Regions from separate parts of the Homo sapiens genome. Here region 1 is linked to region 2. The links come from fine-mapping of genetic effects on gene expression. A gene starts in region 2. The other region holds a variant in brackets. All regions are shown on one strand. Distances are between the middles of the regions.

The links. PIP is the estimated chance that this variant, and not a neighbour inherited with it, causes the effect.
Region 1: its variant is fine-mapped to the expression of HPAT5 in hypothalamus (GTEx, PIP above 0.99).

What each region holds. Positions count from the first base shown.
Region 1 is chr6:167,251,971-167,268,267 of GRCh38, reverse strand. No RefSeq gene overlaps it. Among named protein-coding and RNA genes, the nearest start is that of UNC93A, 31 kb to the left of the region's middle. RefSeq lists an enhancer at 1-618. The variant C/T (reference allele first, on the strand shown) is at 8,764.
Region 2 is chr6:167,220,685-167,236,981 of GRCh38, reverse strand. HPAT5 (human pluripotency-associated transcript 5) reads right to left here and starts at 8,682. Exons shown (of 4, transcript NR_157263.1): 1 at 8,585-8,682; 2 at 5,025-5,155; 3 at 4,422-4,503. RefSeq lists a silencer at 4,839-4,977 and enhancers at 8,706-9,238, 10,352-11,153, 12,149-12,927, 14,427-15,043, 15,044-15,661.

The DNA.
Region 1 (16,297 bases), 31 kb before region 2:
CTGTGTGCAGCCATTCTGGCCACCGTCCCTGGTAGGAGTCCTCCCCATGCTTCTGGGAGCCGGGGCCACTGCTTGCCTCTGACTGAACACGCACTGGCAGAGGCCTAGAATGATGAGCTCTTACAGTGTGACTGCAGTCCGGGTCCAGCCAGGGAAAAGCTTCATCCTAATTATGACTGTGGGACTCAGGCATGTCTGTTGTTAGGTGGAGGCTTGATCGACAGGCTCAGCCGCCCTGGTGTTCTGACTCTTGTTCCACTCACTGCACAAAATGAAGCTGGCGGAATATTGCTACAAAAGAATGATCGTGGCAGGAGGCGGGGTAGAGCAATGTCAGGTCACGGTGCGTCTTGCACCGAAATATTAAGGCAGTTGTAATGATCTTTGTCTCACAGAAATGAACAGAGTGATGAAGGAGGCTCAGAGAAAGGCAGCTGAGAAGAGCAACAAGGTAGAAAGGCTGACTTAAAGTAGAGAAATAAAAATTCATCCAGCACCTCCCAAGGTCGGACATTGGTCAAGACACGCCCAAATAGTTCAGGTCATTTAACTTTGCTCAAATTCCTCAAGGCAGTTATCACGACTCCTCCTGCTTTAGAGGTGAGAATGCCAAGGCTCCTGAGGGCTGAGTAAGGAGCCCTGGTTTGTTTGAGTGCAGGTAACACAACAGGTGTTAAAGCCCAATCTTCAGGGTCTTAATCCAACAGAAGTTAACTTTCGCTTAACTTCCCATCCTGTCCGCATAAAAGGGCTTCAAGTCCTCAGAAGGTTCTGGATTCAGCCTGCATGGAACAAAGGGCCCCTCTGCTCATTTCCATTGCTGAGCCTGACAGGAGAGGCTGGGATCGGAGTTCACCTTGAACCTAGGGTGGAAGGGAAGTGCATTTTGTGAACACATAGCACCCAGGCCAGGCACCCAAAGCCACACAGCTGCAACAGCAGCCTACAGTCCGACGCGGGTCAGGCAACGGAGTCCAAGCTCACGTGTTCTCTGACTTGAGTTTTCTGAACCTCAGAGTCCTCTCCTATAGAATGGAGAAAACGTCTCCTTCACAGGATTGCTGCGAGGATGAGCAGAGAAAATGCCTGCAGAGGACATTCCTGGATGCTTAGTTATGGACAGGGCACCAGGAGAAAGGGTGATGCTGGAGTCTCTCTTTAGTTCTTAGGGATCATCAACAAAGAGGGTGTCTCCTGAATCAAAGATCACAGCAGAGTGTGTCCGAGAGGCCGCCTCTCACCTCCCTCCCTGGCCTCGCACACGCAGTCGGGACTGGACTTCTGATGGCAATTCAGTGACGCACAATCGAAAACCAGCAGCGCGGAACAGGAGATGGGAGCAAACTAAGCTACCGTTTCACTAACTTCACAGAGGAGCCTGACACAGAAAAATGTATACATTGTTTGCCTTAAAGTGAACAATAGGGAATAGCTATCGTATCTTCAAAGCAGCTTTCCAAGATCAAATCCGTCGCATCCGGAATGCGTTTCTTTGACCTTGGAACCTCCAGGAGTGGCCAGGCTCCCCCACAGATCACACGCAGCATTGCCTAGAAGCCGGTAGCTCTCCCGTAGGACGCTGGGAAGCAGCCAGCTGTTCATGTGGGAGTGTCAGCGTGCGTTCCTTTGTCAACGTCCTGCAAGAAAGAAAAGGCAAGAACGTCAGCGATGGCTCCACTGACTGATTAAGGCAAAGGAAGTCGCCACTGTGAGTGATCACCCAGGCTACGCTGGACAGAAACAGGCCATTTGCCCAAGTCCCCCAGCAGCTGTCTTTGTTCCCCACTTCGATTTGCTAATGGGCAGTGGGGCTGGAGCTCACTCTGCTCCTTCAGGGAGTGGCTTGGCGACCAGGTCAGACTTCAGTGTCTCCAGGAGCCTGTGAACCTGGTGCAAGGCTCTTCAGAGTCAGGGAGGGTGGCACACGGTCTTCAGACACGGAACTGAGGCTGTCAGTGGTGGGGAGTAAGTGAAAAATCCCACAGGCCCTGCACTGTGTCCATACGTGTTATTAATCTTAGCAATGTGGCCCAGAGAACGCAAGCTCTTCCAGCCTCTGCCCAGGGGCAGCCCAGGAAGCCGTCAGGGATGAGTGATTCCCTTCCCTTCCCAAGAACCTGAGACAGGCGCAATTACCTCCATGGCTGATAACCACTGTTCTAATCCCATGCTTGACTTAAAATCATCATATTTTAGACTTAAGAAGTCCGGACCCAGCTGATTAATCAGCCTTTCCCAGGAGCCATCTGCGGGGCAGGGTCAGAGGAACCCTGGAAATTTTCTGTTCAGCCTGAATCTCTCTGTCCTGTTTTCCGAAATTACTCCCACTAGAAATAGAAGTTTCCTGATAAAAATGCCTACCCCCTGAGAATAGTGATGCTACGAACAGTGCGTTGATAAACACAGCTTCAGCTGTCTCAGACCCAGCACCCCACTGTAACACATATTTTATAATGCTCCTTTGCTGTCTTCTAATAGGACTCACAGATAACATAACCTTTTAAAGAAAGCAATATAATGTCCCCATTTTTATGTGATGAAGAAGTAAAAAGAAAGTCACTTAATAAAATAATGGATCTTTGTACTATGTACATACTTTGCCTATGTACTATAAGTGAATTCTGATAACTAAGCTAGAGACATTGATAAGACAACAAGTAGAAAAGGGTTTATGTGATAAATATTGTCATTGTTTTCAGTTCATTTGTTTATGTTTTTAATTGCCATAGTCTCAGTATGCTCAAAATCCTTTAGCTAGCACTCTGAGTACTCAAGGAATATGTCTCTTCTGGGCCAGGGAGGGCATGTGTGTACACATAGGTGCTCTGTTGTACTGGTCTTACAGCAGGGAGGTGACCTCTCAACTGTCTGCCAGGGAACTAAAGCTCAAAAAACATTTTTAAAGGTAAAGTACCATAAAATTTACACATCCATTTGCATTTGCATTTCCATCACCAGACAACAATGAGATGATGAATTTTGTCTCATTTAGACGTCAATTTGTTTCTGGACTTTTTATAAGCAAAAATGGAAGTATTTTAAACTAAACAGTAACTTTCTTTAGACAATTAAAATAAAGTACACTATTCAAACTTAATATAAAATAATAAAAAACATAAAAGCAGATAATATTCAAATATGAATTAGCCAGGCACGGTGGCGTATGCATGTTATCCCAGCTACTTGGGAGGCTGAGGCATGAGAATCACTTGAACCTGGGAGGCGGAGGTTGCAGTGAGCCAAGATCACACCACTGCACTCCATCCTGTGTAAAAGAGCGAGACTCTGTCTCAAAAAAGAAAAAAAAATTCAAATATGATTCCTGTTGTCATAAAAGATCTTCAGTAGACAAAAAAATCACTTCGCTCAAACAGGAATAAAACACAGGACACATTTTTCACATATTTGCTTTACACTTACAATCTCATCCAACCACAAAACATCTTAAAACTTGCAGACTGAATTATATATATATATTTGTATATTTTTTTAAATTTTACTTTAAGTTCTGGGATACATGAACAGAATGTGCAGGTTTATTCCATAGGTATACATGTGCTATGGTGGTTTGCTGAACCTATCAACCCGTCATCTAGGTTTTAAGCCCCACACGCATTAGGTATTTGTCCTAATGTTCTCCCTCTCCTTGCCCTCCACCCCTCAACAGGTCCCGGTGTGTGATGTTCCCCTCCCTGTGTCCATGTGTTCCATTATTCAACTCCCACTTATCAATGAGAACATGCGGCGTTTGGTTCTCTGTTCTTGTGTTAGTTTGCTGAGAATGATGGCGTCCAGCTTCATCCATCTCCCTGCAAAGGACATGAACTCAGTCTTTTTTATGGCTGCATAGTATTTCTTGGTGTATAGGTGCCACATTTTCTTGATCCAGTCTATAATTAATGGGTATTTGGGTTGGTTCCAAGTCTTTGCTATTGTAAATAGTGTTGCAATAAACATACATGTGCATACGTCTTTACAGTAGAATGATTTATAATCCTTTGGTTATATACCCAGTAATGGGATTGCTGGGTCAAATGGTATTTCTGGTTCTAGATCCTTGAGGAATCGTTGCAATGTCTTCCACAATGGTTGAACTAATTTACACTCCCACCAACAGTGTAAAAGCATTCCTATTTCTCCACAGCCTCACCAGCATCTGTTGTTTCCTGACTTTAATAACTGCCATTCTAACTGGCGTGAGATGATATCTCATTGTGGTTTTTGATTTGTATTTCACTAATGATGAGTGATGATGAGCTTTTTTAAATATGTTTGTTGGCCGCATAACTGTCTTCTTTTGAGAAGTGTCTATTCATATCATTTGCCTACCTTTTTTGATGGGGTTGTTTGTTTTTGTCTTGTAAATTTGTTTAAGTTCCTTGTAGATTCTGGATATTTGACCTTTGTCAGATGGGTAGATTGCAAAATTTTTCTCCCATTCCTTAGGTTGCCTGTTCACTCTGATGATAGTTTCTTTTGCTGTGCAGAAGCACTTTAGTTTGATTAGATCCCATTTGTCAATTTTGGCTTTTGTTGCCATTGCTTTTGGTGTTTTCGTCATGAAGTCTTTGCCCATGCCTATGTCCTGAATGGTATTGCCTAGGTTTTCTTCTAGGGTTTTTATGGTTTTGGGTTTTACATTTAAGTCTTTAATCCACCTTGAGTTAATTTTTTTATAAGTTGTAAGGAAGGGGTCCAGTTTCTGTTTTCTGCATATGGCTAGCCAGTTTTCCCAGCACCATTTATTAAATAGGGAATCCTTTCTTCATTGCTTATTTTTGTCAGGTTTGTCAAAGATCAGATGGTTGTAGATGTGTGGCATTATTTCTGAGGCCTCTGTTCTGTTCCATTGGTCTATATATCTGTTTTGGCATCAGTACCATGCTGTTTTGGTTACTGTAGCCTTGTAGTATAGTTTGAAGTCAGGTAGCGTGATGCCTTCAGCTTTGTTCTTTTTGCTTAGAATTGTCTTGGCTATATGGGCTCTTTTTTGGTTCCATATGAAATTTCAAGTAGTTTTTTCTAATTCTGAAAAGAAAGTCACTGGTAGCTTGATGGGCATGGCATTGAATCTATAAGTTACTTTGGGCAGTATGGCCATTTTCACTATATTAATTCTTTCCATCCATGAGCATTGAATGTTTTTTCCATTTGTTTGTGTCCTCTCTTATTTCCTTGAGCAGTGGTTTGTAGTTCTCTTTGAAGAGGTCCTTTGCATCTCTTGTAAGTTGTATTCCTAGGTATTTTTTCCTCTTTGTAGCAATTGTGAATGGGAGTTCACTCATAATTTGGCTCTTTGTTTGTCTATTGTTGGTGTATAGGAATGCTTGTGATTTTTGCACACTGACTTTGTATCCTGAAGTCTTTGCTGAAGTTGCTTACCAGCTTAAGGAGTTTTTGAGCTGAGATGATGGGGTTGTCTAAATATACAATCATATCATCTGCAAACAGAGGCAATTTGACTTCCTTTCTTCCTATTTGAATACCCTTATCTCTTTCTCTTGCCTGATTGCCCTGGCCAGAATTTCCAATACTATGTTGAATAGGAAAGGTGAGAAAGATCATCCTTGTCTTGTGCCAGTTTTCAAAGGGAATGCTTCCAGCTTTGGCCCATTCACTGTGACATTGGCTATGGGTTTGGCATAAATACCTCTTATTATTTTGAGATGTGTTCCATCAATACCTAGTGAATTGGGAGTTTTTAGCATGAAGGGATGTTGAATTTTATCGAAGGCCTTTTCTGCATCTATTGAGATAATCATGTGGTTTTTGTCATTGGTTCTGTTTATGTGATGGATTACATTTATTGATTTGTATGTATTGAACCAGCTTTGCATCCCAGGGATGAAGCTGACTTGATCATGGTGGATAAACTTTTGGATGTGCTACTGGACTCAATTTGCCAGTATTTTATTGAGGATTTTTGCAATGATGGTCATCAGGGATACTGGCCTGAAATTTTCTTCTTTTGTTGTGTCTCTGCCAGATTTTGGTATCAGGATGATGCTGGTCTCATAAAATGACTTAGGGAGGAGTCCCTTTTTTGCTATTGTTTGGAATAGTTTCAGAAGGAATGGTACCAGCTCCTGTTTGTACCTCTGGTAGAATTCAGCTGTGAATCTCTGTGGTCCTGGGCTTTTTTTGGTTGGTAGACTATTAATTACTGCCTCAATTTCAGAACTTGTTATTGGTCTATTCAGGGATTCGACTTCTTCCTGGTTTAGTATTGGGAGGGTGTATGTGTCCAGGAATTTATCCATTTCTTTTAGATTTTCTAGTTTATTTGTGTAGAGGTGTTTCTAGCATTCTCTGATGGTAGTTTGTATTTCTGTGGGATCGGTGGTGATATCCCCTTTATCATTTTTTATTGTGTCTATTTGATTCTTCTCTCTTTTCTTCTTTATTAGTCTAGCTAGTGGTCTATTTTGTTAATTTTTTCTTAAAAAAAAAACAAAACAGCTCTTGGATTCATTGATTTTTTTGAAGGGTTTTTCATGGCCCTATCTCCTTCAGTTCAGCTCTGATCTTATTTCTTGTCTTCTGCTAGCTTTTGAATTTGTTTGCTCTTGCTTCTCTAGTTCTTTTAATTGTGATGTTAGTGTGTCAATTTTAGATCTTTCCAGCTTTCTGATGTAAGCATTTAGTGCCATAAATTTTCCTCTTAACACTGCTTTAGCTGTGTTCCAGAGATTCTGGTACGTTGTCTCTTTGTTCTCACTGGTTTCAAAGAACTTCATTATTTCTGCCTTAATTTCGTTATTTACCCAGTGGTCATTCAGGAACATGTTGTTCAATTTCCATGTAGCTGTATGGTTCTGAATGAGTTTTCTAATCCTGGTTTCTAATTTGATTGCACTGTTGTCTGAGAGACTGTTTATTATGATTTCTGTTAGTTTGCATTTGCTGAGGACCATTTTACTTTCAATTATGTGGTCAATTTTAGAATACATACTATGTGACCCTGAGAAGAATGTATATTCTGTTGATTTGGGGTGGAGAATTCTGTAGATTTCCATTAGGTTTGCTTGGTCCAGAGGTGAGTTCAAGTCCTGAATATCTTTGTTAATTTTCTGTCTCGTTGATCTGTCCAACATTGACAGTGGGGTGTTACAGTCTCCCACTATTGTTGTGTGGGAGTCTAAGTCTCTTTGTAGGTCTTTAAGAACTTGTTTTATGAATCTGGAAGCTCCTGTGTTAGGTGCATATATATTTAGGATAGTTAGCTCTTCTTGTTGCATTAATCCCTTTACCATGATGTAATGTCCTTCTTTGTCTTTTTTGATCTTTGTTGGTTTAAAGTCTGTTTTATCAAAGACTAGGATTGCAACCCCTGCTCTTTTTTGCTTTCCATTTGTTTGGTAAATATTCCTCTCTCCCTTTATTTTGAGCTTATGTGTGTCTTTGCACATGAGATGGGTCTCCTGAATACAGCATATCGATGGGTCTTGACTCGTTATCCAATTTGCCAGTCCATGTCTTTTAATTGGGGCATTTAGCCCATTTACATGTAAGGTTAATATTGTTATGTGTGATCCTGTCATCATGATGCTAGTTGGTTATTCTGCACATTAGTTGATGCAGTTTCTTCATAATGTCATTGGTCTTTATATTTTGGTGTGTTTTTGCAGTGGCTAGAACCAGTTTTTCCTTTCCATATTTAGCGCTTCCTTCAGGAGCTCTCATAAGGAAGGCCTGGTGGTGACAAAATCCCTCTGCATTTGCTTGTCTGTAAAGGATTTTATTTCTTCTTTGATTATGAAGCTTAGTTTGGCTGGATATGAAATTCTGGGTTGAAAATTCTTTTCTTTAGCCGGGTACGGTGGCTCATGCCTGTAATCCCAGCACTCTGGGAGGCTGAGGCAGATGAATCACAAGGTCAGGAGTTCGAGACCAGCCTGGTCAACATAGTGAAACTCCGTCTCTTCTAAAAATACAAAAATTAGCCGGGTGTGGTGGCACATGCCTGTAGTCCCAGCTATTCGGATGACTAAGGCAGGAAAATAGCTTGAACCTGGGAGGTGGAGTTTGCAGTAAGCTGAGACTGTGCCGCTGCACTGCAGCCTGGGTGACAGAGTGAGACTCTGTCAAAAAAAAAAAAAAAAAGAAAAGAAAATTCTTTAAGAATGTTGAATATTGGTCCCCACTGTCTTCTGATTTGTAGGGTTTTTGCAGAGAGATCCACTGTTAGTATGATGGACTTCACTTTATAGGTAACCTGACCTTTCTCTCTGGCTGTGCTTAACATTTTTTCCTTCGTTTCAACCTTGGAGAATCTGATGATTATGTGTCTTGTGGTTGCTCTTCTCGAGGAGTATCTTAGTGGTTTTCTCTGTATTTCCTGAATTTGAATGTTGGCCTGTCTTGCTCGGTTTGGGAAGTTCTCCTGGATAATATCCTGAAGTGTGTTTTCCAACTTGGTTCCATTCTCCTCATCACTTTCAGGTACACCAATCAATCATAGGTTTAGTCTTTTCACATAGTTCCTTATTTCTTGGAGGCTTTGTTAGTTCCTTTTCATTCTTTTTCCTCTATTCTTGTCTACACGCCTTATTTCAGTAAGTTGATCTTCAATCTCTGATATCCTTTCTTCTGCTTGATCCATTTGGCTATTGATACTTGTGTGTGCTTCATGAAGTTCTCCTGCTGTGTTTTTCAGCTCCATCAGGTCATTTAAGTTCCCCTCTAAATTGGTTATTGTAGTTAGCAGTTCCTGTAACCTTTTATCAAGGTTCTTAGCTTCCTTGAATTGGGTTAGAACACGCT[C/T]CTTTAGCTCAGAGGAGCTTGTTATTACCCACCTTCTGAAGCCTACTTCTGTCAATTCATCAGTCTCATTCTCTGTCCAGTTTTGTGCCCTTGCTGGAGAGGAGTTGTGGTCATTTGGAGAAGAGGCATTCTAGGTTTTGGAATTTCCAGCACTTTGTGCTGCTTTTTCCTCATATTCATGGATTTAGCTACCTTTGATCTGTAAGGCTGATGACCTTTGGGTGGGGTTTTTGTGTGGGGGTCCTTTTTGTTGATATTGATGTTGTTGCTTTCTGTTAGCTTTTCTTCTAACAGTCAGGGCCCTCTTCTGTAGGTCTGCTGCAGTTTGCTGGAGGTCCACTGCAGATCCCAGACCCTGTTTGCCTGGGTGTCACCAGTGGAGGCTGCAGAACAATAAAGATTGCTGCCTGCTTCTTCTTCTGGAAGCTTTGTCCCAGAGGGGCACTGGCCTGATGCCAGCCAGAGCTCTCCTATATGAGGTGTCTGTTGACCCCTGGTGGGAGGTCTCTCCCAGTCAGGAGGCAGGGGGGGTCAGGGACCCACTTAGGAAGTAGTCTGTCCCTTAGCAGAGCTGGTGCGCTGTGCTGGGAGAATCCCTCTTGTCAGGACCAGCTGCTCTCTTCAGAGCAGGCAGGCAGGAATGATTAAATCCACAGAAGCTGCGCTCACAGCTGCCCCTTCCCCCAGGTGCTCTGTCCCCAGAAGATGGGGGTTTTGTCTGTAAGCCCCTGACTGGGGCTGTTAACCTCCTTCAGAGATTCCCTGCCCATTGCGGAAGAATCTAGAGAAGCAGTCTGGCCACAGCTGCTTTGACACACTGTGGTGAATTCTGTCCAGTCCAGACCTCCCAGCCTCAGTACCGTCAGGGGAAAACCACCGACCAAAGCCTCAGTAATGGCGATGCCCCTCCGCCCACAAAGCTTGATTGTCCCAGGTCAACTTCAGATTGCTGTGCTGGCAGCAAGAATTTCAAGCCAATGGTTCTTAGCTTGCGAGGCTCCGTGGGAGTGGGACCTGCTGAGCGAGACCACTTGGCTGTCTGGCTTCAGCCCCCTTTCCAGGAGAGTGAATGATTCTGTCTTGCTGGGGTTCCAGTCACCACTGGGGTATGAAAAAAACTCCTGCAGCTAGCTCAGTGTCTGCCCAAACAGCCACTTGAAACCCAGGGCCCTTGTGGTGTAGGCACAAGAGGGAAGCTCCTGATCTGCAGATTGCAAAAACCAGGGGAAAAGTGTAGTATCCGGGCTGGGTAGCACAGTCGCTCACAGCTTCCCTTGGCTGGGGGAGGGAGGTCCCCCAGCTCCTTGTAGTTCCCAGGTGAATTGATGTCCCACCCTGCTTCTGCTCCCCCTCTGAGGGTTGGGCCCACTGCCTAAGTCCCAGTGAGATGAACTGGGTACCTCAGTTGAAAATGCAGAAATTACCCACCTTCTGCGTTGTTCTCGTTGGAAGCTACAGACCAGAAGTTTTCCTATTTGGCCATCTTGGCCCCTCCCCTCATATTTTCTTACTTACAAAATCTGATTACCTGGATTCAAGACAGAAATTGATAATACATTAAAGGTAACTATCTAAAAATCCACAGCCAAGAAGAAAAGGAAACCCCATTAATAAAACGGAAGTTTCAGTACTTTAATAGGGATATGTAGGTGCTACAAATTTATTTTTAACCTTTCAAAAGTCAGGTTGAATAAATATACTGTAAGAGGCAGGGTATACGTCTGTGTGTATATTTATACATATATATATATAATTGAATAAAATGATAACCTTCTGCACATCTGATTAGAGAAACATCCTAACCAAATTTAAGATAAAGGGATTACTGGGAATGCAGCATAACACCATTGCTTGAGAACCAGCCCTCTCTCCCCAGCCAGGTGAGCTCACGGCACAGTTCTGAACCACGGCAATTGTACGCCCAGTAAACAGGCTGGTGTGAGAATTAAATGAGACAACATGTTTGCAGCACTGGGAAAGATTCAATAATTTGTTAGTACTACTGGGATGGGTGGGGAGAAGCATCTAGTAAGTGTTTTTATGTATTGCTCAAAAGTGTAAATTGTCACAGCCCATCACAATGGCAGACATACATCTGTCCCTATGTGATGTATACAGTTTCATGTGGCATTCACTACAGCACGGTGTGTAATAGCAAGATCGGAAACAACAGGTATACCCTTCAGTTGGGGATAGGTTAAATAAACGTCACTTCCTTACAGAAGAACATTATACAATTGTTGTTGTTTTTTTTAAAGAAAAACAAACAAACAAACAAAAACAACCCTGACTGGGCACAGTGGTTCACACCTGTAATCCCAGCACTTTGGGAGACCGAGGTGGGTGGATCACCTGAGGTCAGGAGGTCGAGACCAGCCTGACCAACATGGTGAAACCTCATCTCTACTAAAAATACAAAAATTAGCCAGGCATGCCTGCGATCCCAGCTACTTGGGTGGCTGAGGCAGGAGAACCATTCGAACCTGGGAGGCAGAGGTTGCAGTGAACCGAGATTGCACCACTGCCTTCTGGCCTGGGCAACAGAGACTTGGTCTCAAAAGAAAAAAAAAAAACCCCTCCTTATATATTAATGAGAAAAGTACTCCATGGTAAATTATTGAGAAAAAAGCAAGGTATGGAACAGTGTATATAGTATGCTACCATTTAAGTAAAAGAGGAGTAGAAATGTGTATTTATTTGAATATATTAAAGCAAACCCTCTAGAAAGTCATACAAACAATTACTAGTAATAATTAACTACTGATGATGAAAGCAAAACAGCACCTGATGTATGGTCAACCCTCAATAAATGGAAGCTGTAATTGTTCCCTCCATCAGTAACATCATCATCAAGAAAACATATCCTTAGACTACAGACAACATATCCTTAGACTCCGGAAGACATTCAGGCTAAATCCATAAGGGGGCAAAAAGCCAAATTTCAGTTTTCAAGGGCTATGTCGCAGATCTGAGCCCTGATTCCTCTTCAGAGGAAAGGAGCTTTTAGTCATTGTGCGGTTGGCCATCACCTCCGGAAAGCAAGACAAAGGCTCTTCAGAGGCAAGCTGAATACTCGCCACCTTGCAGCTGGTAACCCCAGAAAGCTGGGCCCACCAAGGACACACTGCAAGCTGCTCACGGTTCTAATGGCTCAAAGTCCAACACCAGGAAATGAAAGACACTCAGGCCCAGCGTGGCACTGCCTCAGTCTCAGGTGAGTGTGGACAAGTGACCTACTGTTTTACATTTAGCAGCATCAGAATAACTTCATGTTCTTGAGATATATTCTCATTAAAAGAGGGTAGTTAGATGTAAGTGTAACTGGATTTCCTGGTGGTAACAATGCCTATGGAGAAATAGCTGCCTGGACTATAACGCCCCCTGGTGAGAGTGTATCTTAATTGCAGGCAAAGTATCTAGGTGATGAACGATCCCCTGAGGGGCACACTTACGAGTTTCTTTCTCCACTAAAGAAAAATGACTGCTGTGGTCTGAATGTCTATGTCCCCTCAAAGTGTGTATATTGAAATCTGATACCCAATGTGATGGTGTGGAAAGGTGGGCGTTTTGGGAGGTAATTCGGTGATGAGGGAAGAGCCTCATGAGTGGAATTAGTTCCCTTATAAAAGAGACTGGAGGGAGGCCTTTTGTCCCTTCTGCCATGTGAGGACACAGCAAAAAGGCTACATGCACAAGTCAGAAAATGGGGCCTTATTAGACACCAATTATTCCTTGACCTTGGACTTCTCAGCCTCCAGAACTGTGAGAAATAAATTCCTTCTCTTTATAATGCACTCAGCTTATGGTATATTATTACAGAAGCCCAAACAGACTAAGGAAATTGGTATTGAGGACTGGGGTACTGCTGTAACCAATACCTAAAAGATGGAAGTGGAAGCGGGTGATGGGGAAAGCCTAGAAGAGTTTTGCTGGAAAAAAGCCTGCATGGCCACAAAGAGATCACTAAAGGGGATTCTGGGTGGGCTCTGAGGAGATAAGGAGAGCTGTAGAGAAAGCCTGAGTCTTCTGAGAGCTGGTCCAAGTGGTTGTCATCAGAATGTTCATAGAAATGGACAGTTAAAGCCATTCCAAGGAGGTCTCAGATGGAAATGAGTAACATACTATTGGATACTGGAGGAATGGCAATGCCTGTTATAAAGTGGCAATGAGCTTGGCTAAATTGTGTTTGTGTCCCAGTGTTTTGCGGAAGGTAGAACATGAGAGGAATTAAATAGAATACTTGGCTGAAGAAATTTCTAAGCTAAGGGTTAAAGGCATGCCTTGGCTTCTCCTGAAATCTTATATAGTAAAATGTAAAAAGAGAGAAATGACTTAAGGACAGATTTTTTCTCATCAAAAGGGAAGCAGAACTTAAAATTTGGAAAATTCTCAGCCTTTTCATATTGTAAAAAAATGAGAAAGTGTGTTTGGGAGAGAGCACAAAGAGTGTAGCAAAGCAATCATTAGATAAGAAGATTGGTGTGGATCAACCAGGAGATATTCACGAAGAGAGTGGAAGAATGATCCTAGCAGCATTTCAGATTCCTGGCACTTCCCCTCCCATTACAGACTCAGTGTCAGGGCCTGAGGGGCAGAATAACCTCAAAGCTCTGCTCCCTACATCCCAGCACAATGCTCTTTGATGCCCCAGGTGGTATGGGAGCCGGTGCCTCTCCTCTAGGGGTCAAAGGCTATAAAGCTTGGCAGTGTCCATATGGTGCTATCTCTGCTGGTGCACAGAGCACATGAGTTACAGTGGCATGGCTACCTCCACCTCAATTTCAAAAGCTGGAGCCACCCAGAGCCTCAGACACATGACACAGGCAGAGGGTCACCTCAAGGGTGAATCGACTGCAGATGTCCACAATAGGGAAATGCCAAAAGGAGTGGGGCTGCCCCATGACCCTAGCCTAGTAGAGCCACCAGCATGGAATTCCAGTCTGGAAGAGCCACAGGCATTTGACTCCAACCCATGAGAGTTGCCAGTGCCTAACAAAGCCATGGGATGGAGCTTCCCAGAGACTTGGGGGCCCAGCCACCAACGAAGTGTGTCCAGAAGGCAGAACATTGAGTCAAAAAGATTTTTCTTCAGCCTTCAGGTTTTGAACTTAGGACCCATTCCCCTTCCTTCTTTCCTATTGTTTCTTTTGGAATGGGAATGTCTATCCTGTGCCTATCCTGCTGTATTAGTTCATTCTCACACTGCTGCAAAGAAATACCTGAGACTGGGTAATTTATAAGGAAAGTATTTTTTAATTGGCTCATAGTTCCATTGGTTGTATAGGAAGCATGATGCTGGCATCTGCTCAGCTTCTGGGGAGGCCTCAGGAAACTTACAATCATGGTGAAAAGCAAAGGGGAAGCAGGCATCTTACATGGCTGGAGCAGGAGGGAGAGAGAAGGACAAGTGCTATACACTTTTAAACAACTGGATTTTATGAGAACTCACGCACTATGCAGTACCAAGGGAGATGGTACCAAACCATTCTTAAGAACTCCGGCCCATGATCCAATCACTTCCCACCAGGCCTCACCTCCAACACCGGGGATTATAATTGAATGAGATTTGGGTGGGGACACAAGTCCAAACCATAACACCTACCATTGAATTTGGAAACACATAACATGTTTGATTTTACAGGCTCACAGCTGGAAAGCAGTTTGTCTCACAATGAATTTTACCTTAAATCACACACGTATTTGATTTAGACGATGTTTAAATGAGACTCTGGACTTCACACTTTTGAGTTGATGCTGGAACGAGTTAAGACTTGTAGGGCTGTTGGGATGGAATGAATGTACTTGTCACGTGAGGAAGATGTGAACTTTGGGAAACCAGGGACAGGGCGCTGTGATCTAAATGTTTGTGCTTCCTCCCCACACATTCAGATGCTGAAGGCTAATCCTTATGGTGATAGTGTTGAGAGGTGGGGTCTCAAGGGGGTGATTTGGTCCTGAGAGTGGACCTCTCATGTATGGGATCAGTGCCCATATAAAAGAGAGAGAGGGAGCCTGTTTGTCCCTCTGCCATGTGAGGACACAGCGAGAGGCCCCATCTGTGAATCAGGAAACTGGCCCTAATCAGTCTTCATTGTAAATGTCCACGTCTCCAGAACTGTGAGCAGTAAAAGCCACCCAGTGAGTGGCACTGTGTTATAGCAGCCCAGCTAGGAAATAAGCAGGTAGGGATTTAGTGTATTTCACAAACGTAATTGAATATTTATCATGTGTTTCTTACATTATTTTTCAAATTAACTAAAATACATTTTTTGAATCTATAAACCTTCAACATATTATCATCCTGTATTATGCCATTCTTGCATTACTATAAAGAAATAGCTGAGACTGGGTAATTCATTTAAAAAAAGTTTAATTGGCTTGTGGTTCTACAGGCTATACAGGAAGCATGGCGGCTTCTACTTCTGGGAGGCCTCAGGAAGCTTCAATCATGGCGGAAGGCAAAGGGGGAGCAGGCACATCACATGGCAGGAGCAGGAGCAGGAACAAGTGAGAGACAGTGGGCAGGGAGGTGCCACCCACTTTTAAATAACCAGATCTCATGAGAACTCACTCTCAAGAAGACAGCATCAAGCCATGAGGGACCCACCCCCAGAACCCAAACATCTCCCACCAGGCCCCACCTCTGGCATTGGGGATTACAACTCAGCATGAGATGTGGGTAGGGACAAATATCCAAACTATATCACATCCTAATGGATTAGCACATAAACAAAAATAAACTTTTATTACAAATAATCAACTAAGCATTATATTGAAATAAGAAATTAATCGTTCATAAACATTTAAAATGACATATTATTTGGTGTTTTTAACAAAAGTCATCAATGCTTCTTTTTTTGTGTGTGTATGTACAAAATTTTCCAGAATAATCCTATCAGTTTTGAAGACTGCACATTAGTTCATCTTTTTTTTGGCACAAAATTGAATAGTTTAGTCAATGACTTTCATTTTAAGAGATAAATAAAGGCTGGGCATGGTGACTCACACCTGTAATCCTAGCAGTTTGGGAGGCCAAGGTAGGAGGATTGCTTGATGTTAGGAGCTTGAGACCAGCCTGGGCAACAAAGCAAAGCCCTGTCTCTACAAACCATTAAAAAATCAGCTGGGTACAGTGCCATGCTCACAGGATTTCTTTGAGCCCAGGGATCTGAGGCTGCAGGGAGCCGTGATTGCACCACTGCACTCCAGCCTGAACAACAACAGATGACACCTCATCTCAAAAAAAAGAAGTTAATAATTCAGACCTTAGTTTCCAAAAATAGTGGTATAATTGTAGTATACCAATAAAAAAATACTGGTATTTCAGGACTTTAAAATAGAACTATGTATCAGAATTCAAGAATTTTAAAAATGAGTATTTCTATCATTACTGTCAACGTTTTTAGGATAAATAAATGTATTTGATAGTTATTTGAAACTCGTCGATCACCATGCCTTCCTTGGACGACTCTTTGAAGTAGATTACAACCTTCAGTTTGAGAAATATTAGGGAAGGGAATTGTCCATAACAAAA
Region 2 (16,297 bases):
CCAAGAAACATATTTAGGGTTAAAATATTTGGATTTTCTTCCTTATCTGTCATGTGAGGTTACACCAGAGTAAGGTTGGAAAGAGCCGAGTTACACAGGGTTAATAAGACCCCTCCAATGAGGCTTTGTGGTTTGTAGGGTGACCTCCCCAGGCCCCTTAGGTAGGAATTTGGGCAGGAGAGAAAAAAGGTCAGAGTTTAGTCCTCAAGGCACAGACTTATGTTCTTGACCCTCCTTCCATCTGGTGGTACATTCAGGCTAACGGAAAAATCCTACATATTCCACGTTGGATCCGTCCTCCCTCCTCCTGACTAAAGGGTTCTAGGTGTGTGTGGTGATACAGCTGGGATGGTTATTCCTTCCGGAAGCTTCATCCTGTTTTTCCTCCTTCTGATGTCCAAATTCCTGCCTCACACACTGGGGTCTTTTGCTTTGTCATTCACACATTAACACAAGGCCTGGATGCAGAAGGCTGATTCCTGTTAGTGCCTGTGATGGCAGCAGTGGGCCATCTGGTGCGGCCTGGCCCCTGCCCGCACGCAGACTGCTGCGGGGCGTGTGCAGGGAGGAGGTGGACAGCCCCCTCCCTCCACCCGCTGCCCTGGGGGCCGCCGGGATGGAGCTAGGCGGGGTCCAGTTCACCCACCGGCGGGGCAGCCGTGCAGTGGGGCAGTAGCTCCTCCGACAGAAAGGGGCCTGATGAGGGCTGGGCCGCACTTCGGGGATCCGGGGCAGGAAGGGATAGTGACACCTACTCAGGGGACCTGGCCAGCTGGGCACCCACTGTGCCCACCCCACAGAGGGTGCCGGGTTCCTGGGTCGCGGGAGGAGGCTCTGCGTGGGGGCTGCCCAGACCGTATCCTTGGAGTCCGCCTGGCGTCGGGGTGACCACCAAGCCTGCCATTCCTGAGGGCGGGGCCTGAGGCCCACGATCCACTCTGCCCTGGGCCACCCCTGAGTACGGGGGCAACAGGGGGAGCTCGTGGTAATGTTGCCCCTGCCCTGGACGCTGGCCTGAGCCCAGCAAGGATCAGGAGCCCCTGCCTCAGGCTGCAAGGGGTCACAGTTGGGGCTGTGTGCCCCACGGAGTGGGTGGGAGCCAGGAGCAGGCAGCAGCACCGCCAATCTCTCCCGCGCGGCTGCAGCCGCCCGAGTTGGGGCGGTAGACACGAGCCTCTGTGTGCTCTTGGAGGGCTGAGGGTAGGCAGGAGCCGTGCGCTCCTGGGTGCTGTGGCACTCCAGGGTGCCGCCCAAACTGGGGATGCTGACCTGACCTCCTAATCCAGGCGGGTAGGAGCCCCACCCTCCTGGACAGGGCTGCAGCCGCCCATGTTGCGGCTGCAGATCTGAGCCTCCCTTTGCTCTTGGGTGGGTGGGGGCAGGCAGGAGCCCTGCATGCTCCTAGGCACTGCTGCGCTCGCGGAAGCCGCCCGAACTGGGGCTGCAGACAGGGGCCTCCAGCTCCATGGCGCAGGCAGGAGCCCCCACCCTGCACACCCGCAGTCGCCCAAATCTGCCGCTGCAGCCTCTGGCATCCCTGCACTCTTGGGGGCCGGGAAGGCCACGCCTACCCTTGGGGGCTTGGAAGTGCCTCCTCCCGCTGCCTGGGTTCTCCCTACTATAAGCCCCTCTCTGATCTTGGTACAAAGTCAGGGCAAGCCCCAACACCATGAATGGCAGGGATGTGAGACCCAGGCAGTTTAGGTGACCTGCTCAAGGACGCACGCTGTGCACAGTGGCTGAGCCTGCTCCTGTCACGTCCCAGGAGACTTCAGAGTCCTCGTGATCCCAGCTGTGCTGTGCTCCTCCTTCCGCTGTGGGTCCAAGGCATGGTTTATACCAGGACTCCTCCATGTTTGGGAAACCTTCACGGGGCACCGCTGCTGTTATTTCTCCTCCCTTTCTTAAGTTTAAGCAAAAAGTTCCATCCATGGGTAGCATTCTTTACAACTTAGACTCGTCAATGATCAGCAAGAATTTAGACTTTGTCAATCTCAAGAAAATGATTATAAAATCCAGACAGTGTTCCAGGGCTATCTGACAAGCAAGAACACCAGTAACTTAGTTCATTAGATGCCTTCCAGCGACAGGATGCTACTTAGACAAGTTCCCCTGAAACTCAGGGCTGCAAGTCTCTAGATTGATTATCTGCAAATGCAGCCATCTGCTTCCTGCTGTGACACTTCATTCCTCCGCCCTGGCTGCACTGCAGACAGACGCTGGGGAGACCTCGCCTTCTCAGGGTGGCACTGTGTGGAAGCCAGGGCTCACCCGGCTCTGTTCCCACAGGGTGGGAGTTTTTCATTTTAACAGTTACAGAATCATCTACACGGATGTCACCCTGAGAGTTGTAATCCCCAGGAGAAGTTGTCATCCATGTCACTAGCACAGCTTGCTGTGTATTCTGTTTTGATTTGGGCTTTGATTTTTAATTAATTCTAGTGAAAATCTTTTAATGAAAATCTTTGCTTCAAATTTGAAAAAGGTAGACAGCAACCTGCAACACACAGGCAGATGATCAATAAATAGTCCTCTCACTGAAGAGTGGTGTGAATTCGCTAGTTAAGACATACCTATTAGATATGTTTAAAAAATGTGTTTCAATGGAAAACTGTAACACATACTTCTGGGTTGTTCATTGTCTTTGAACTATTTTACAATTCTTTGCAAATTGCAGGTAACTGATGGAGATATATAGACATAGATCGATCTATCTATCTATCTATCTATCTATCTATCTATCTATCTTCTGCCCTGTCTAGTAGTGATTTTTACTGGCTTCTTTCTCCTGTAAAAAATTTGAAAATAAATAAATAAAAAAGTTTTCTTTCCATTTGCAACTCATTTCAAAATTCCTTTACTCCATATAAATTTGTATTGTTTTCACTTTTCCTTTAAACTATTTCTAACATCTGCCTAGTTCCCTTCTATCATATGTGTAAAATAAAATCTTTAAGAGTTGTGTATTTTAATATCTTGGTGCAAGTCATTGTTTTACCTTTTTCTGAAAATTATCTTTCAGATAATATATAAAGAACATGCTGTACTGTTTAGATTTTTTTTTAATTTTGCAAGCGACCGGAATTGTGTTATTACCCAAATCAATGTTCCTGAGCATTTGGTGAGCAGAATTTTTAAGGAAAACTTGGTGGGTGCGGGGGAAGCCAGTGAGCTGGGAGCGCTGATTGGTCAGGGGTGAAATCACAGGGAGTCAAAGCTGTCTTCTTTCACCGAGTCAGATCCTGGGTGGGGGCCGCAAGTCAGATGAGCCAGTTTATCCATCTGGGTGGTGTCAGCTGATCTATCAAGTGCAGGGTCGGCAAAATAGCTCAAGCACTAATCTTAGGAGCAGTTTAGGGAGGGTCAGAATCTTGTACCCTCCAGCTACATGACTCCTCCACCATGATTTCTTATCTCGTGGTTATTGTTAGCCCTACAAAGGCAATTTAGTCTTCAGGCAAGAAGGAGGTCTGCTTTGGGAAAGGGCTGTTACCGTCTTTGATTTAAACTATAAACTAAGTTCCTCCCAAAGTTAATTCAGCCTCGGTCCAAGAATGGACAAGGACAGCTTGCAGGTTAGAAGCAAGATGGAGTCGATCAAGTTAGATTTCTTTCACTGTCTCAGTCATAATTTTGCAAAGGTAGTTTCAATCCCTCCCTTTGTGTTTTATAACACCTTAATCTTGAGGTTAGCCTATGAAGATGGGAAAAGACTGCGGATCGCTCTGGCGTCTTCCTGCTGACAGAGGGCGTAGTGGGAATGGGAGTGAACCCCAAGGTGAGAGGAGTGAACCCCAAGGTGAGAGGAGTGAACCAATTTACTGCTGTCTGGGCGACGCATGCAGGTCTGACTGGGCTTCCAAACCTTGCATGGCAAAAGCATTAGTACCCTCATCTATACTTTCAGTACAGTATTTAACTGAACAGTGTACCATAAGGTAAATAACGAGTCCTAGGATGAGCAGTACAATTCCCAGTTTTAAAAGCAATGATTAGAAAGCATGAGTTTGGGGACTTCTAACCCACAAAGAATTTAGGAATTAATCCAAACTGCAGAAAAAAACCTCAATAACAGCTAACAACAGGTGTACTATAGCTTTCTTTTGAAATATAATTTTTCTCTCTTCAGTCCCCATTTTTATTAAAAACAAATCATGATAGAACGGATTTGTTTACAAAATCAACTTTAGTCTTCCCGTACTTGGCCTGATCATTTGCAGCAAGAATAATTATTTTTCACTTAGGCTCTTTTTAATGGGCTTTGATGGAATTCTGTTCCATGAGGAATCCCACATATGACTTTTTAAAAGCCGAGCCCAGCCATCGGTTTGTACCCTCAAATAACTATGAGTTGGGTAAATTCCTCTCCTCTTGAGGCCCAAAGGTAACTTGGGGTTATCTAAGTGACATTCATTACTTACCACAGGTCAGGAACCTTGTACAGGAACTGCATAGATGAGGTATGAGGTCAGATTCCCCAAGAGACTTATACCTGATTATAAACTGCCAAAGCAAGACGAAATGTCTGTGTATGATAGAAGTCTTAAGATAGCCACTACTAAAGCTACAATTGACTAGAATTTTGTTTACTTCTGTGGCATACAACAATTTTGTATAAAAATTATAATTATTAATAACACTAAATTATATCAGAATTATAGAAGTTTCCCATAATTTTGAAACACATACTAATAACATATCTATACAGATACAGTCCAAAGACAACCAAACACTATTCACTCTTCTATTTGAAAGTTTTTTTCTCTATTCTAACGTCACAATCTCCAGGTTATTAATCAGAAATCTGCACTGAAGAGCCCCTGTTAAATTTTATAGCTGATTATAAAACCATCCTTTAAAGAGGACTGGCCAGGCACAGTGGCTCACACCTGTAATCCCAGCACTTTGGGGGACCGAGGTGAGTGGATCACCTGAGGTGAGGAGTTCGAGACCAGCCTAGCCACCATGGTGAAACCCCGTCTCTACTAATAATACAAAAATTAGCCGAGCATGGTGGCACACACCTGTAATCCCATCTGCTCAGGAGGCTGAGGCAGGAGAATTGCTTGAACCCGGGAGGCAGAGGTTGCAGTCAGCCAAGATCGTGTCATTGCACTCCAGCCTGGGCGACAAGAGTACAAGAGTGAAACTCCATCTCCAAAAAAAAAAAAAAAGAAAAAAAGAGGACCAAAATGAGACAACAATTGCCTGTGGATGACAAAACATTTTAGGGCAGCCACAGTTAAAGACACAATTGGCAAGGAAATTTGTTACCTCTGTGGCACACAGTCATTTAACATAATAATTATAATTATTACTGATAACTTATACTAAGTCATATTAGAATTATAGGTGTTTTACATAATTTTGAAATATGTGTCAATAACATATTTGCACAAATATAGCCCAAAGAAAGCCAAACACCATGTCATATTTGACAATGCTTTCTGTATGATTTTTATACCAAATAAGCCAAATGTCATTTTTGGACTTTAAAGAACCTAATATCTAAAAGGTTAAAAAGAGACATAATTTATAATTTGGTTTTGGAACGTTTGTCAAATATCAAAGGTTTAAAACACTGAATATCACAAAATAGCATCCCAGGTCACCATAAGTCATCCATTTGGCCAAAATGATAGCTCCAAAAATTTTAAAAAGGAAAAATCTTTACTCTGATAGAGGAGACTTAGCTTTCCAACAAGACCCAGTGAAGATAGCATGAGGCCAACTGAGTCTGTCTTTTCTCTCTCCTCCCCTTTTTCCCTGCCACTTACCTAAAAGAGGAAAGAAAACCCTTTCATTATCCTTTAATATTACATAAAAATCATCTTCAAAAGAGAAAACCAAATTTCATGTTTGCATTAGTGCATCTTTAATGCTAAAGCTAGTTTTTAAATAAAATTTTATATATCTGTCCAGTTTTAATTAGTTTGACCATAAGGTAAGATTTTCATGAACTTTTTAGAACCCTTTCCAATTTTCCATCAAACAGCAGATCAATTTTCTAAGCAAACCCTATTATTCGGACACGTGGGCCCAGACGCTGGCCCTGTATCAGTATGGTTTTAGTGTTTTAACTTATGGAGAAAAGCTAAATAATTTCTTTCAAATCTTAGCCAACTTGTTTATACCCACAGAATTTTTTTTTTTTTTTTTTTTACAAATCAACCCTTTACAAACCCTTTTCACTTTGAGTAAGCCTTCGGTTTTATCCCATTACTCTTTTAGGTTAACACAATCTTTAAAACCCTCTGAACTAGACAAAATTACATTCCCTTTAACAGAAGCCATATTCCCATACCTTCTTATAATCTTTTATCAAAAACACATTCCCTACACACCATGTATGTAAAGCTGTTTCTCCAGTGGTCTCAATGTTACATTGTTAATTCTTAGCAGCTTTTGTTTTTAGTGAAAACCCTGATGAGTAAGTGATTTTAATTATGTACTGGGTGGAGCCCAGGACATCAGGCAGAAGTGAAGATGAGGTCTGACTCTTTTCAGCATGGCCAGGGGCATGGCTCTCCACAGCTCCCCAGGCCTCCTCTGTCATCTAATCCTCCAAAGCAGGTAAACTGAACAATTTTTCCAAAGGAAACAGTTTGACCTTAAAGCATTTAGCAAATCTGATATCTGACCTTAATTTAGACCAAATACCTACATTTTCAAGACATGTTATTTTACCAGTAATCTTTAAAACTGTCTTTATTTGCAAAAGATTACTAAAGCCATTTGAAGAAAAAGGCATTAAAGATTTTTTCTGTCAAAATATTTCATTTACATGCTTATTTTTCTAAGCCAATTATCAGAGCTCTTTTACATACAAACATCACACACCCAACACATATAAATACGCAGACAGAAATACAGAAGATTTAGCACTTGTAACATTTTTCATTTGCCAGTTTTCTTAATTGGATTACTGACTTCAGGGTGGAGCCCTTGAAGGAACAGAGTCAGGAAAGCATGCAATTCTTGGGCCAAATAAGCAGGAACAGGTGAAGGCAAAGACAGATCCCCAAAGTTAAGGGTGCCATTTTATACTGGATCTTGAATCCTCAAAAGGAGGAAAATCCTACAGGAGAAGAGACAGTGCAATGCTTCTACGTGCATTTCATGGCAAGGCCACCCAAAGCCAATCAGCCCATCCCCCACGGGAGCTTCATCTCTCAGCTGAGGGTGGGGACCTTTCCATGTCTTCCAGGTGTCCACGAGCATTTGCTTCTCTGATCCAAGTGTGCAGTCAAGTATCCCTCCATAACTACTGCTAGCCATCCCCTAAAGTATTTCCTACCTTGTTATTACACACCCAAGCTCTCTCGTAATGTGAAGTAATTTCTTAAAACCCCAAGAACTCAAAACTGTCAGATAACACAATGCAAAACAGAGCAGAGCTTTTGATTTTGAGAGGGATCTATCCGCTTTTAGTTCCTAGGGTTTCATGAGGAAAACAGAGCTTTTTTCCAAAACAGGGTCTATGGTGCCTCCTGTTTTTTTCAAGGAGTACCAGGCTACCAGAAGAGGACCTCTCATGTATGCATTAAGATTAGCAAGACAAAAAAATTGAGAAAAATAATTAAGTCGACTGAGAAGAAAAAAACCTTTTTTCCAGAAAAACAAGATCCAAGAAGGGAACAACATAAATGCCTTTTAAATATATCTATAGCTTGTTTATCCACTTTTAATCAAGCTGACTTTTAACCAGAGCGCTCTTAAAAAAAAGTCCTTTTAAATTTCTTATTACCCGACTTTAGCCAGGCGGCCAATATTTCTGGCTTTTGAACTTTACCAAAGGTGACCTCCCAGATGCTTCAAAGACATGGTAAGCAGTTTCTTTTTTACAAGATTTAGAATCTTCCCAAGGTAGTTCAGAGAAAGGAAAATTCAAGAGAAGAAATCAGAAACTCCCTGGGGGGGGGAAAAACAACTCAATAAATGGCAAAATTACACAACTAACAAATCAGAAAGGAATAATTCCAGAAAGCAAGAATTGAACCCAGGCCACCATCATCAAAAGGCAAAGCCTTAGCTACTGTATTATGGCATTGAGCAGTTTTTATTGCTTTTCCCAGAAGGGTCCTAGAGAAGCCAATTTCAAGCTTGCCAAGGCTTTTAACTGGTCAAGAAAATTTTTAGGGCTATGACATGAACTCTAAAATTCCTGTCCTCTAAGACCGAATCTAAGAGAATCTAAGGCCGAATCTAAGAGAAAGTGTCTGCACATGGTCACAAGGTTAAGCTCTTAAGGACACAAAACAAGACAGAGATATTTCATCTGGTATTGGTTTCAGGAACCCACAGCAAAATTTGTAACTGACCAGTCTGCTGGGCTGGCTTGTAATGCAGGTTATGGGGTCCTAAACCCACGTTCTAGCCTGTGCTATCCCTCTGTCCATTACAGAACACAGAAAGACAAATTCTCAGCACAAAGTACACCAGATTTGCTATAACCTAAGAGTAGTCTCACAAATCCCTTGTCTATTAATCAAACCCTTGCAGAGAGACAAATAGTGACGATTACCGTTTACACAGACAGAGGAAGAGAGAGAGACCAGAAACTTGGCTGGTAAGAATTTCTTACCCTTTTTGCCGGCATACCAGGTTTCCGGGCTCCCTTTCTCTGCAGCTTCCAGAAGAATGGAGCAGCTCTGATGACCCTGCTCGCTAGTGCCATGGCTGTGGGGTTCAAACCACTTTACAAGAGAAAATCACCCCTTTCTGTGTTATGGAACCACAGACAAGATTCTTAATTTGCAAGATGCTGCCCAACAGGCTGCCTGGGGAACCCAATTAACATTTTCCATCCCAGCGAAATACACATAACAAAACAGACATGAATCACCTCATTCAGCACCCACTATCAGCCTGGCAAAGCCCAAACTTTCTCCCGTTGGTCTCTGTTGTCTTTGATCCACCCCAGCTGGGGCGGGATGACCTCCAAAGGGTAATTCACAATGGGGTCTCTGGGCAAGGCGAAGAGCACATAGTCACCCCGAGACAGGCCTGCTGAGCATTTTTCAGGGCTCACCGAATGTGACCAGACAAATAAGGAGGGTTCTCTGAGTTAGGCCTGCTGAACGTCCATCAGCAATTCCCTCTGAGATCCCCTCCACATATACAAACACACATAAAGACAAGATGAACACAGCGTTTTCCAAATCAGATCCCTAACCAAGAACTCCAAGAGTGTCCCTTCCAAACTGTCCTTCTATTCTCCATCTGAGAAATCTCCTCGAAATCTTCCTGATTGAGGAGAAGTCTCCCAAACCAAGACTCTTTCTACTAGTTAGAAAGAGCCAACTGAGGCTGGGCGCAGTGGCTCGCGCCTGTAATCCCAGCACTTTAAGAGGCCAAGGCAGGAGGATCACTTGAGGACAGAAGTTCGAGACCAGCCTGGCCAGTGTGGTAAAATCCCATCTCTACAAAAAATGCAAAAATTAGCCGGGCATGCTGGTGCACACCTGTAGTGCCAGCTACTCAGGAGGCTGAGGCAGCAGAATCACTTGATCCCAACTCAGGAGGCAGAGGTTGCAGTGAGCCAAGATTGTGCCACTGCACTCCAGCCTGGGTGACAGAGGGAGACTCTGTCTCAAAAAATAAATATAAAAGAAAGAGCCAACTGAGACCCCCAGGAGACAAACTGAGACAGACACCCCGAATTGGGTTACAGACACAGACACCCCATGGTGGAGCTACAAGCCAACATCCCTCAGTGGGGCTACAGACACCCCACCGGAGGGTACAGAACCAGTCAGCAGAAGGAAGGAGGCATTGGCAATGCCTAGGATACTCACCAACCCAGATATCCTGCAATGGGGTTACAAACATATACCCCACCATGGGGCTACAGACAGACATCCTGTGATAGGGTTACAGTTAAGAGATGCCTCCCCAGGACTATAATTCTATTGCAATTAAATCCATGCATATTGCGTCGGCAGCGCCCCACCAGCAGAGAGAATACCACAATTAGCCCCTAGTCCGAGAGAACTACGTGGCCGCTTGGTCTGGCCTCTGGATCCATCGCTGGAGAGGGGGCTACTGAACCATGGGCAGGCAGCCACAAGGGCAATCCCGGATGAGCCCACACATTTGTAACTGCCCAAGGGGTTCACCTTGCCCACTGCCTAGACAGAGCTGATTTATCAAGACAGGGGAATTGCAATAGAGAAAAAGTAATTTACGCAGAGCCAGCTGTGCGGGAGAAGAGAGTTTTATTATTACTTAAATCAGTCTCTCTGTTTAGATTTTTAACCCATTGCTTATATTTTGTTCTATGTGAGTGAGAATGGGCTACTAGGAATAAGAAAATATATTCTTTCTTTGATTCAGTTGAGTATGACCGTAAACGAAGGGTGCAATACTCATGGAATTTTCCACCGAAAATTATGTGTATATTTGAAATCAAGCAGAGCAGTGCAACAGAAAAATCAACAAAGATGCCAGATCCTTATCCTTGGAGGATAAAAAAAGTAGGCATGTGTGAAAGAGATTAGGACTGCCTGACATATGATGGTTAGTTGAATTTAGTCTGAATTTCAGTGGAGTCCAGCTGGGAAAACAAGACTGCATGAAATACCTAGAAAACAATACCAGGCAATCCACAATTCACTGTGAGATTGTGTAATAAGCGATGTTCTTAAGGAAGTCCATGAGCGCAGGAAGGTATTTGCTTTGAGAGGATTCCAGTGCCCTTACTTCCTCTTCAGTTCCCGTCACTGGCCTTTTATTGATGTGTATTAGTTTGAGACTTCAAAACCCAATCTCATGTTTCAAGGTACAGATGTAACTGTACATTAGATACTCAAAAGCCGAGGATGAGGTCTCGGGATCAGCAAAGCTGGCCACCTGCCTTGAGAGCGGCTCCTACCCCCTGCAGGCGCCCCCTGATCTCAGGTGGTGCCTTCAAATCCTTTGTAGAGGCTGGGGGAGGGGAAGGAGGAGCACATTTGTTAATGAGGGGGAAAATGCTGTGTGCTTTCAAGGGAAAATGCTAAATTCATTTCAATAGCATATGAATTACTTGCTGTTAAGGAATAGGCACCCTTCATCTCAATAGAACCCTGTCTTTCAAAGCCTTCACTTCCGTATCCTTGAGGTTTCTCTTCAAAGAGGGCTGAGCACATTCACCCAGGCACTAGGAGGCCCTGTGCATTTTTTGTCCTGCTGTTTCCATGGATAATTTAAAAAGAATTATGAATATCTCAGTCCTTAGAGAGTCAAAGAGCCCCGAGACCGCTCAGTCTAGGTCTGCTGGAGTGGCTCCCTTTGTGGGTCCCTTTGCTGGCTGAAACCTGGCCAGAGGTCGCGGGGGACAGCACCCTGTCTTATCATAAGTTCCTCAAATGATTGTTGTATAGTATAGACCAATGTATCACCTGCTGACGCTGGAGAGGGCACTGTGATTTTAAGATGAGCTGAAGCATGAAGTTTTACTGATTTGTTTTCATGTGGACATTGTTAGCCTGCAGGTCGTAATCTGTAGTAATGATTGTGACCTCTGAGTTGCATCCTCCAAAAGAAAGAAGACTACTCATTTAAACTCTCCTACAAAAACCTTTGGCCTTGTGACAGACTCCAGAATGCTGTCAACTCCGTGGGTATGTCTTCCCAGGTCCAACCTCACATTTGGCTTTCAATAAACTGTGATAAAATTATTTCTGCCTCAACAGTCTTAATTTCAGCTGACAATCTCAAGTCCACCAGTGATGAGGGGAGCAAAGCAAAGGACACAATTTGCACAGCATCTTATTGTTATGGGAGGAGAAGTGGCTGCCAACAGGACCCCAGGACAATGGGAATGCAGTTGGCTTCAGATAAGAGACAAAAATGAGGCTTCAGATGAAAGTTAACGCCTAGGATAACAGGCTGTGTGAGCGGGTTGTATTTGATGGGAATATTGAGTATGGGCCCGTGATTGAGAACTCACAATTACAAGAAAAACTTTTTTTATAATGTACATTTGCTCTTTGTCAAAGTTATACTGCAAGGAAGCTGACATGATTTCAGAGTTCAAAAATATAAAACAAACTGGACTCAGTCATCTCTCTCACTGTATGTGAATAACAAAGAAAGAAAGAATTGGTGTAACAAACTATGACTCCACAGAGATCCAACAGTACCGTTTCTTAGGAAGTCTAAACCAAAAAGTGTCTGAGGCTGGTCCCAATCAGTGTAAAGGTTTATTCTGTCAAGTTTGAGGATGTGCCTGGGAACAGGGAACACAAAAGCACAGGAACATCTGTGATCTGTGCTTTTTCTTTTTCTCTTTTTCTTTTTCGAGATGGAGTTTTGCTCTTTTTGCCCAGGCTGGAGTGCAATGGCACAATCTCAGCTCACCGCGTCCTCCTCCTCCCGGATTCAAGTAATTCTCCTGCCTCAGCCTCCCGAGTAGCTGGGATTACAGGCATGCGCCACCACGCCCAGCTAATTTTGTATTTTAGTAGAGACGGAGTTTCTCCATGTTGGTGAGACTGGTCTCGAACTCCCGATCTCAGGTGATCCGCCCGCCTCGGCCTTCCAAAGTGCTGGGATTACAGGCATGAGTCACCGCGTTGCCCAGATCTGTGCTTTTTCTAAGAGCATTTTGGGCCTTCAATATTTAAAGAGGAAAAGTGAGCAGGAAGGGAAAGAGGGAGCATAGGGTCACATTCTTGTGAGTCTTTGATTAGACTTACTGAATCCACGTGTTGTGTGTGAAAAGGAGGGGAAGAGGGAACACTCAGTTATGTATTCATGTCATGCTCAGTAAGTTGGCACTTATCTAAGATAAGGTGACCACAGAGCAGCTGCCTGTGGAGACACCTGGCCTTCTATGTGAGGCTATCTGCTTAGGAACAAAAGGAAAGGCAGTTTCTTGCATGACTCAGCTTCCAGCCTTAACTTTTCCTTTTGGCATAGTGAATGGGTTCCCGAGATTTTATTTTCCTTTCACAGAAGGAAGCTGATCCCTGCTGGCCTCACACAGAAAGGGGAATAGCCACAGGGCCCAGGGTGGAATTTTCACCAAGTCCATTTGCAGAGGGTGTCCTTGCGGTGGGTCCAAGACAATGCCCCCTTGTTCTGCACACTGTTCCTACCCCATCCACAAAGATGGACCTTGTGGCAATGTTGGTGGCCTCTGAGCACCTCCTACGCCAGGTGAATTAGCCTGGGGGGATGTACAACTCAAACAGATCACGATCTGCCTCTTTTACTAAGAATTGTGTTTTGGAACTGTCAGAGAATTGAGGCACTTTTTCCTTATGAATGAAATTAGGGGAAAAAAATGCATGCTTCATTGTTAAGGAAATACAGCAATATTGAATCAGGTACCTGATTGGATCAAGGTTGATACTGGAAATGCCCATCAACAAGCCCTTAACTTGAACTTACTGTGTCGGTAACAAAAAGGGGTACAAACTTATCTCTCTCCTGAGAAGCTTCAAGTTGTCCCCGCTTTCCAGACTGAATCAATGTACTTCTTGCATATATTGATTGATGTCTCACATCTCCCTAAAATGTAGAAAACTAAGCTGTGCCCCGGCCACCTTGGGCACATGTCGTCAGTACCTCCTGAGGCTGTGTCACGGGTGCGTTCTCAACCTGGGCAAAATAAGCTTTCTAAGTTAACTGAGACCTGTCTCAGATTTTCAGGGCTCACAGATGGTAAAAGGAAAGAAATCTGTAGACATATGAAAGATAAATTGAGTCTTCCTGACATGAGGGCATTTCAGTAAACACTTTCCTAGAGTCAGGGGCTCACAGCATGTTAAATCTCCTCTCGGAAAGTTCATACTTCTCTTATTTTGGCAGACTCTGTACATTCTACTAAAATCCAACAAATATTTGCTGAATGCAAACGAAGTACAAAACCCAGGGCAAAATGCTCTCTGGCTTCTGCTCACTTCTGGGCCTGGGGCAGTCCCGCAGAACAAGCCTTGTTCCATCTTCAAAACACTAGGGATGGGGCAGATTTTACCAGAACCCCCATGGGCACAGGAGCACTTACAGACCCTCTACTGCAGCATGGAATCTTTCTTCTACGTATTTATTTTTTTTTTAACTTTATGTGATATTTTTCTTCATAGATCACAAGGATAACAGTTGCGTGAGCTTCTAGAGACTGTCTGGCCCAGTGCATGACATGCAGTTGGTGTTAACTAATAGCTGATGAGCAGATAAATCAAGACACTCAGTTCCTACAAAATAAGAGACACAGTGTGAAGGCAGTGGGGTAAAGGGGTTTAAAAACAACTTCCGAACATCCGGGCTGGGGAGGGATGGGGGACAGAGGAGAGGAGGACTAGAAAGCGAAGGCCAGGCATGCCCATCCTCTCCGCTAAGCCCTGTTCATTAGGTTTATCCACACAGAGCTCATGTTGCCCACTTGAGTAGATACTGATCATGGCTTTCGGGCCACTGGAAATACACAGCTCAATATCATTCATTAACTGAACACACTGGGTAAGAAAAACACAGGATATTGGGGATTCCTTGGAAAAACAGAGTCTTGCCTTTAGTGCCCACACACAGCCCATTTTCCTGAGAAGGGCCCTGGTCCCGTGTCCGGGGTGCAGACCCACAGTCTGGGACTCTGAGGGCGGTCGCCACAGGTGGGTGCGTTGACAAATCGTGGCTGCTTGAGAACATTGGGAGATCTTGCTACAGAGGTCCGTGGGTCCTTACCTTGGGAACGCCGGACACAGCGCACACAGCCCACCAACCCCAGACCCCTGGTGGTATCACGCTGTAAGCACAGAACTCCTACTCGCCTTGTAGTCCTCTCCATAATCCTCTCCAGTTCTCAAAACACATCATCAGCTTGATTTTCTCCTCGGCTGTGCCAGCATAAGCCAACCTGTTCCTTCCCACACCGTCTGGGCCTTCGGGCCCTGCCAGGTGGCACCACTGCAGAGGGGCAGCACTGAGTGGGACACGTAGGTGTGTAGTTACCTGCCCAAGGGAGGGTGGCTGACCATCTGGGACACCATGCCCAGGCACACTCCCTGCTATGCAGGCTGGCCCTGAGCCATGGCGTTTAGGCCAAGGGAAAGGGCCCTGGCTGGCATTTGTCACAGGTCTCCCCTTGTCTAATGTGCAGAATTCAGGAAATACTTTTTGAAGGCAGGATTGCCATGTAGCCAGCTGTCTGCCAGGGTTCATCCCAGGGACCAACCCCACTGTGTGCTTCTTTACAGCTCATCATAAACCGGTCAGGAGAAAAGGAGTTGCCAGCCACGGGGGTGACGTGAGCCGGGGCCTAAATGACTGGTGGCAAGCCGGGACTCACACTGGATTGCAGCCTGATTAGGCTTGCGGGGCCAGAGGGGATGAGAGTTAGCCAGGGCGGTGGAAACGGCTTCCCTGCCACTGCCGTTGTCTCAGGTGGCTGTGTCTGGTGCCTGAGCGCTCCGGTTCACAGTTTCTTTACAACCACCGCGGTGGGAGTTCTGGGGGCCGCCTGGGGAAGCAGCTCAACCACAAGAATGGGCAGCCCAGAGGGCAGGTGGGGGCTTAGCTTACCTGATAGAGTTCTTTCTAGAAAATTCCTTTATAGAAGTATAGTTTTCCTTAAAAATTTTGTTCTTCTTAAATTAGATGTTCTTCTTAAAAATACAGAAATAGGCCAGGCGTGGTGGCTCAGGCCTGTAATCCTAGCACTTTGGGAGGCCTAGGCGGGCGGATCACGAGGTCAGAAGCTCAAGACCAGCCTGGCCAACATAGTGAAACCCTGACTCTACTAAAAATACAGGAAGATGAGCTGAGCATGGTGGCGGGCACCTGTAGTCCAAGCTACTCGGGAGGCTGAGGTAGGAGAATCTCTTGAAGCTTGGAGGCAGAGGTTGCAGTGAGCTGAGATCTCACCACTGCACTCCAGCCTGGGAGACAGTGGGAGACTCCGTCTCAAAAACAAGACAAAACAAAACAAAATACAGAATAGTATATAGGTGCATCCAGTAAAAAAAGGATACACGCCCCTTTCCTCTCAGAAATTTAATTATCTAGAGAAGAGTTTGATGTCTCTCTCTCTCCCTAGATATATATTTACACACACACACAATGAGCCTATATTTTATATATATGCATGTCCATATATACATGTATCTATTTATATTCATGTATACATATGCATATGTATACGATTTTTCATACATGTTATGTTTAGTCAAAACTTAAGCAATAACCTTCAATGCTTGTCTTTACAAGATGTTCTCCCTTCATCATATCAAGTACCTTTCCAGTCTGTCTTTCTACAGCTTTCCAGCAAATCCTTTCCAAAGTCAGTGGAGAAGTTTCCAGCAGGAGCAGCTGC